2 separate regions of the Homo sapiens genome follow, and region 2 is reported to be linked to region 1. The links are microRNA targets in miRTarBase. Many come from high-throughput screens and were not tested one by one. Region 1 holds a microRNA gene; the other region holds the end of a gene's coding sequence.

Region 1 (4,000 bases):
GTCAGAGATTATGTAATTTTTGAAGCATTCTTCCTGCCCCACCTCCACCCTATTTTCATCTCCAATTTTATATGAGTGAACTTACAGTAGGCCCTGGGGGTCCCTGAGGTCCAGTTTCACCATTCTTTCCAGGAGGACCCTAAAAACAAGAACAGTTAGGGAAGTAGAAATAATACAGATTACAGAGAGAAGTCAGAAGGTTGGAGATGAACGCATCTATTAGAAGGCTAGAAATAAATTGAGGAAAGCTACGTACCTGAGGGCCAGGTCCTCCAGGGCCACCTCGTTCTCCATTCTTACCAGGAGCACCCTAAAGAAGAAGTGGTCGGTATTTACTAATCCTCAAAGGGCAATAACTAATCATATTATTGTCTCATATATATATGTCTCATATATATATGTCTCATATATATATGTCTCATATATATATGTCTCATATATATATGTCTCATATATATATATACACACACACACATACATATTTTTGAGACTGAGTCTTGCTCTGTCGCCCAGGCTGGAGTGCAGTGGCGCAATCTTGGCTCACTGTAGCCTCTGCCCCCCGGGTTCTAGTGATTCTCTTGCCTCAGCCTCCTGGGTAGCTAGGATTACAGGCACATGCCACCATGCCTGGCTAATTTTTGTATTTTTAGTGGAGACAGGGTTTCACCATGTTGGCAAGGCTGGCCTAGAACTCCTGACCTCAGGTGATCTGCCTGCCTTGGCCTCCCAGAGTGCTGGGATTACAGGCGTGAGCCAGCGCACCCAGCCTGTTTCATATTTTTTATCTGCCTGCTCCATACACACACATACAACCATAACCAATTATATATTTAGCTCCCTTCCTACATGCAATTTGATTTTCATATACTCCTCCATGCTTTGAAGAGGAGACTGAGTTTTGACCATTTCTTTACTCCATATGGAAAATAAAAGCCTTCCAGTCAAATATTTATTGAAGAAATTAATGAAGGAACTCACATCATTTCCTTTAGGACCGGGGAAGCCCATGACACCAGGCTGACCTCGGGGACCAGATGGCCCAGGAGGACCTGGTCGACCACTTTCTCCTTGACTTCCCTAATAAGAAAAAATTACATTAATAAAGGTTTGATAAAGAGAAGATTAAAGCATGCTATATATATAGTATGTGTGTGTGTGTGTGTGTGTGTATATATATAGATATACATATACATATATATATATACACACACACACACACACACACTCAAGGATAGGCCAACATATACATTCCATTTTAACTGGCCTTTTAAAATGAGATTTTAAAAATGTACATACGGGAGGCCCTGGTTTCCCATCACTTCCTGGTCCTCCTGGACTTCCGGGCATGCCCTGAAGTAAAGAAGTCAGTTGTTAGGTGATTTAAAATGAAATAATAAAAAATTACTACATACACTATTTGTATGATTTTGATATTTTCACTTACATGTGAAGCCTCAGATTTGCACATCTTTTTTCCTGTCTATAAAGTATCTAAGGCAAGTGTTCTATCTTCTCTTCTCCTTGAACTATCTCGGCTTAAGTTTACTTAAAAGAATTTTGTTTTGTTTGGTGCCTTACAAAATATGTAATCTGATTGATTTAAGTTGCTTTTGATCTGTCTTCATTTGTCTTGCCTTTCTTCTGTCTAAATTAAAGTGTCATTCAAACAAATGTTTCTCTGTACCCTCATTCCTGGACCTCCAGGGACGCCATCTCTGCCAGGTTCTCCAGCAGCTCCTCTGGGCCCTGCAGGGCCTGGAGCACCACGCTCTCCAGCAGGACCCTAAGTAGTGAAAGAAATTTTAAAAAAATTAAAATAGCCTTCACTAACCTAGATAGCAACAATATTTTGGTTACAAAGAGAGGACGTCATTTGAACTTTTAAAAAGGGTTCGTGTGTTGCTGAAACATTTATACATAAAATCAGTTATCTTAGCTTGGATTGCCATATTGAAAAAATTTTAAAGCAACTTTGTGAACATCACATGCTTAATAAAACAGTATTCACTGTGCTTAAAAATATAATTATGTGCAGCTAAAATCAAATATCTTAATGCTATGAAATCATATTTGATGTAACCTTAGAGTTTTCAAAGACTTTTCAGGCATTTTAGTTTACTGTACTCTTGCAACGATGCTCAGATAAATGCTTTCCAATTAACAGATAAGTAAAGGATTCTCATAGAGGGTAAGTAAGTGGCTTTAGTTACAAAGCCAGGAAAGTTGTTGAACAGAGGATGCATTATATTAGGAATTTTTCTTAACTCTAATATATATTCTTCAGATATTTAGGTTTTCATGAATGAGAAATTGTATACAAGAACTGCCCATTTGTGGTGCTAGCATTTAGGAACATAGAAACTAAAGTTATCTACCTTTTCTCCTGGGATGCCATTTGGTCCAGCAGGTCCTCGGAACCCAGGGGCACCCTGAAAATAATGAAAGACAAGTATTTCAGTCCAAAGGATTTCAATTCTTTTTCATAATTCTTGAGTGGCAAATATTTTTATGTCATAGAATGCTTTAAACAATATTTTCACTGAACACTCAACTTAAGAAAAATTGGCTGTCTCACCCTGAAGGTAGTTTTATTTAGATGACAGTGATGCTGCTTTTCTTTTAGATGCCCCATGGAAAACGTACCCTTTCTCCTGCAGCTCCTGGAAGCCCATTTGCACCAGGTTCTCCAGGTGATCCATCCTTGCCATCTTCGCCTTTAGCTCCTGGAACACCTGGAATACCAGCCTCACCCTGAAAAAAAAAAAAGATGGTAAAATAAAGAAATTATGACTGAATTTAGTTCAAAGTTTTTACCTGTTTACTTTCTAATTATGTTGCATTTTTTCAAGAAATAACCAGATCTGTTGCAGTAAAACTTACGCGTTCACCACGTGGTCCGGGCTCTCCTTTGGCACCATTCTTACCAGGCTCACCCTAAAGTATAACAAAGTCTTGGTTGAAACACAGGGAGGATTCGACTAACAAATCATCACCAGTAACACATAATTCAGTTATAAGTTATAAGACAAGAGTGAAGTCAATATAAATTCAACTGAACAGGAGCAAAATTTTGCTATTAATTTTTTGTTGATGGAATTAAACTATACCTTTCAGTCAACAGAGAAAAAACAAGGCAACTTACTGCACCACCTCGCAGTCCAGGAGCACCATTAGCACCGGCTGGTCCTGGAGGACCCCGGGCTCCCATCAGTCCAGGAGCTCCAGGAATGCCAGCGGGACCCTAAGAACAAACCAAAGACACTATATTAGCCGAACTTGAATGTTCTTTTATGAATATCTCACTTAAATATCACAAATCTATTGTCATGCAAAATGCAAAAGAAGCCAGTAATGTGTGGATGAGATAAGGCTGAGGAGTGGGGACAGCTTACCATTTCGCCTTTACCACCAGGACTACCATTAATCCCAGGAGGGCCCTAAGTATACAAAAAACAGATAATGTATTAATAGTAATGCAAATAGTTCGTATATATTTGAAGTTGTTTGTGTGAAAATAAATGTATCGATGAGTGTTATGCTTTGTAGAGATTAAGTGAATCCTCCAACTATAACACAACATATGAAATGTGGTCAAAAGAATCATCATTATCTAAATAAATTAGAGATAATATGTACTTCGTATAAATTATTAAATGATACATAAATAGAAGAGATTTTGAATTTGGTTCTTCTCTGAATTTTTATGATTGGTGATTAGCTTGGGGCACATTCTTGAAAGCATCAGAAAACTAGTCTATCCTCTATTCTTTTATATAAACATAAAAAATCATGAATTCTGGAATAGTGCAACAGTCAAAAACTATCATTTTTACTACTAATCAAATCAGTATGTGTCACAGGAGGATCATTTTAGAGCACTAAGCAACAATTTTTTCAAAGTAATTTTCACTGATAGCCATATTGAAGCACATGCTTTCATGGAGTAAGCATGAAACTATGCTTTCATGGAGTAAGCATGAAACTATGCTTACTCCCTCTC
Region 2 (4,076 bases), not on the chromosome of region 1:
CTGGGACTTAGGTGATCAGGTGCAAGGTGGGGAGTACAAATTGAGTCTCTTTGGATTTGCCATTCTGGGTCTCACCAAGCCCTGTAGTATCTCTTCCATACTGGGCAATAATCTCCTTAGGTGGGCTTTTATTTTTTGCTTTCCTGAGCTGGAAATCAGCATCATTCACAAAATGAATCTCTGGATTCTGCCTCTAAGGTCCCACAGCTCCTGTTCAGGCTTCCCTAAATAGAACTGGTAAAGTGTCACTTGAAGGAACCATTATCCCATTTCAATTTTATTCCTACTTCTCGTCTTTTGTCCTGGGAAGATATTCAGGGTACTGCCTAGGAGACCCCACCCCTGTGAGCCCTTCCCTCTAGATGTCCTGTTTTCCTGTCCCTTTAGCTTTTCCAACTGTCCTTTGCCTCATTCTTGGTTTCCCTTCCTTTCAGGTTTTCGGAGGCGGCGGTGATTATGGGTGTACATATTTGTATATTTTTTGTCATCCTGAGATACTTCTAATTTCATTGTATATAGGTGGTTTTCCCTGGAATTCATTAATTGTTTGCTTTGGACATGTGGAAAGAGCCTTACTAATAAAATTGATTTTGCTTATGAATTAAAGCCCCTTTTTGCACATGTATTGTACGACTGGAGTCGTTGGGTTTGGGATATTTTTGGTGAGTGGTTGGTGAAAAGGGAAATTTTTTTTGGAAGTGCAAAACATTTGTATTGTTTTCTTTGATAATATATTTTTCCCAAAAACTAAAAATTGGTTACGTCACAAAAAGTATTGAGAGACGAGGCTGGTATAATCAACTCTTTCAACCCATGTTGCCACAACTTCCTGTATGATTTGTTATAATACAATACAGATTGAGATATTAACACATGAATTTTAGGTTTTATTAGTGTTATCTGGGCTGGCCACCAGGTGGCATAAGTGGTTCAAGAAACTTGAGCTTGGCTGTAATCAAAAGCAAGATAGAACCTTTCCACATCAGCAAGATTATTCTTATCTCCACTTCTCTGAATGTTTTTCATTTCTTTCTGAAATAGCATGAACATAAGGCTGATCTTTGGTCAGTTACTGAGGGAGTTTGTAGAAAATAGTAGAGTGAGTAAGAAGGCTAGAGTGAAGAGTCAGTATAGTCTTGTGTTTTTCAGACTCTGACCCCCACCCCCCCGCCTTCAACTGAGGGTCATTTTACCAGAGTCAATAAAGGCCAACCCTTCTATAAAGAGCTGGCAAAAAAAAAAAAAAAAAAAAAATGCCAGCAGACAAGCAGAACATTCCTAGCTTAACAGCCAAACAAATGAAAATCCCACAGAAATAATTAGCCAAACTCAAGCCAGGAGACTGGTGGGCGTTATACATCTGAGATCTTGTATTCTAATGAGAGAATAACCTCTGTTGGTGAGATGTCCCACAGGCCTTGGATAATACAGAAAGTGAAAAAAGGGATTAAAAAAAGATAGAAGTTGGGTCTGTAGAATTAATTCATTGGAGTTTTTAAAAAAGGCTTTGGGTCTCATGAACATCTGATTTTAATGTCTAGTATTGCTGGGTTATATCGATAGACAAATTAATTTGGGTTATATGACTAAAACCTCGTTGATTCTGAATTTCTGAATTTGGATTTATACTATTCAGCCTGATTGGGGCAGGGGTCTTTCACTCAGCTGCCGCTTGGTAGAAAGTAGTTAGGAGACTGGACCTATGGCTGTCTTAGGCTAATTCTGTGATCTTGGGCAAATCACTTAATATCCCTGGCCTTTAATTTTCCTCAGCTAAGGAATGTATTAGACTTCATCTGTGAGATTCCCTTCAAGTCAAAGAGCCTAGAGCTTTTGTGCATGACACCAAGATGGGCTTATGTCTGGGGCCGCTAACCTTTAGTCCCTGATAGATCTGAGAGAGTCTCACATGCCCTGGGCTCTCATACTTCTGTTTCCTCAAGGGAATCTAAACAAAGAGCCACAAGAACAGATTTAGAGACTTTTTTTCCTTTATGGCTGAACTAACTAGATGAGTGATTCAGTTCAAAAATACTTTAGTTAAAACCACTTCATTTGCTTGTTAGGACCACTATATTTGTTTCTAATTTATTAAGATTTGTGGATTATGGGAACTTCCAGGGGAAGGGAAGTGCTCTTTAAAAAACAAAACAAAACAAAACAAAACAAAACAGGTACTACCTTCTGGCCAGGTGTGGTGGCTCATATCTATAATCTGGACACTTTGGGAGGCTGGGTCAGGAGGATAGTTTGAGGCCAGAGAGTTCAAGACCAGCATGTTTAACACAACAAGACCCTGTCTCTAAAAAAAAATAAAAATAAAAAAATTAGGCAGGTGTGGTGGCGTGTGTCTGTAGTCCCAGCTGCTTGGGAGACTGAGGCAGGGGTATTGCCTAAGCCCTGGAGTTTGAGCTTGCTGTGAGCTATGATCTTACCACTGCATTCCAGACTGAATGATAGTAAGACCCATCAAAAAAAAAAAAAAAATTCCTGTGCTATAGGCTGAGCTAAGTGCTTTATACTTAATCCTTATAAATTTTTTTTTTTTTTTTTGAGATGGAGTCTCACTCTGTTGCCCAGGCTGGAGTGCAGTGGCGTGATCTCCGCTGACTGCAACCTCTGCCTCCTGGGTTCAAGCGATTCTCCTGTCTCAGCCTCCTGAGTAGCTGGGACTATAGCCACGTGCCACCACACCTGGCTAATTTTTTGTATTTTAGTGGAGACAGGGTTTCACTGTGTTAGCCGGGATAGTCTCAATCTCCTGACCTCGTGATCCACCCACCTTGGCCTCCCAAAGTGCTGGGATTACAGGTATGAGCCACCACGCCTGGCAATCCTTATAAAATTTATGAAATCTCCATTTTACTAGTGAGGAAGCTTAGACACTTAGGGCAAACAATTTTTCCTGAGTTGGAGAACCAGTGCTTGGGGAACACTGAGGATGGAGGACTTCAAGTGTCCTGTGGTTCATGAAAATCTTCAGGGTTAAAAAATCTTTTTTTATTTGTAGGTGGTTTATAATCTAGCTCCCCCGCCCTACTGCCCCATTTCTGTTACAGGCCTCGTCTTCAAAGAAACCCTAAGTTCCACAATTCTGGTCTCTTTGTGGTATACCAGTGAACACAGCAGACAAAATCCCTGCCTTTGTGGACCTTATATTAATTCAATCAAGTCTTTAATCCCAGGACATTTTGTTTTCCCTGGCTTTTAGGCATTATTTGAAAGAAGTTTCTGGTAAAAAGTTGAACTATTTCTGAGAATATTTGTACCAGAGTCATCAAACACTGTTTAGAGTGTATTGTTTGATGGAGTATTACATGGATTCTCAATATGTAAAACAAGCATAAGTGGGGTTACTTTGATTGAAGTGGGAATGAGGGGTCCTGAAGTTCCATGTTCTTATGACCCCCTTTCCCCAAGATTCCTGAGGAGCCCCCAAGGAACCTTTAGAATTCCTTAGAATATAGTTTGAAAACAACTGTTAGGGTAGTAGAACAAGGGAACTAAGAACTAGAATTTTAGGATTTCGTTATGGCTGTTCTGGTCACTTTTTTTCTTTCCCTTATTCCTACTAATAGATTCAGTTATCTGATTATTCAGACCATATGAATATCGGATTTCCTCAGTGTATTGCTGACAACAGATCATTTCTGGTGTTCACTAAGTAATAGCTGTCATTAATGCACACATGAGCACCTTACCTGTTTGGTTTTATCATGTGATGGTTTTGTCATGTGATAGCTTTATTCTGTAGAAGTAATTTACATCTCTGCCTCATTCTTTTCATCTTAGGGGACAGGGAAGAGAGTTTGACCAAGGTCTGTCTTTGCCTTAAAATCATTGTTTTGTTAGGATTTTATGAAGGCTTGGGGAAATGTCTATTGGGAATTCACAACAGTCTTCATAGATACCTTATTAGGAAAACTGTGTTTTGTTTGCAGGGGAGATTATTAGTGTGTCAATTTTCAGCACCATGGAGAGTTCAAACGCTCCTCATTCCTTGGTTTGGTGAATGGGACACAGCTAAACCATAGAGCTGCGTGGTGTAGACCTGCCCTTTTTCAGAGCCCAGTTTG

Evidence for each region. The annotated mature microRNA hsa-miR-3606-3p reads AAAAUUUCUUUCACUACUUAG and lies in region 1 at 1,784-1,804, opposite strand. An mRNA with a match to its seed (bases 2 to 7 or 8) in the 3' UTR can be bound and repressed. Matches are read on the target gene's strand: a 7mer-m8 pairs with bases 2 to 8, a 7mer-A1 pairs with bases 2 to 7 and ends in A, and an 8mer does both.
Region 2: the mRNA of NGDN is a reported target of hsa-miR-3606-3p. The part of its 3' UTR that is shown has no 7-base or 8-base seed match.

Annotation. Positions count from the first base shown.
Region 1 is chr2:188,993,475-188,997,474 of GRCh38, reverse strand. It overlaps MIR3606 (microRNA 3606), which reads right to left and starts at 1,845; the gene lies at 1,783-1,845. COL3A1 (collagen type III alpha 1 chain) reads right to left here. Exons shown (of 51, transcript NM_000090.4): 17 at 3,393-3,437; 18 at 3,143-3,241; 19 at 2,881-2,934; 20 at 2,644-2,751; 21 at 2,376-2,429; 22 at 1,685-1,783; 23 at 1,297-1,350; 24 at 979-1,077; 25 at 257-310; 26 at 86-139.
Region 2 is chr14:23,477,573-23,481,648 of GRCh38, forward strand. It overlaps NGDN (neuroguidin), which reads left to right. Exons shown (of 11, transcript NM_001042635.2): 11 at 435-601. The coding sequence ends at 454. Among named protein-coding and RNA genes, the nearest start is that of NGDN, 9.9 kb to the left of the region's middle.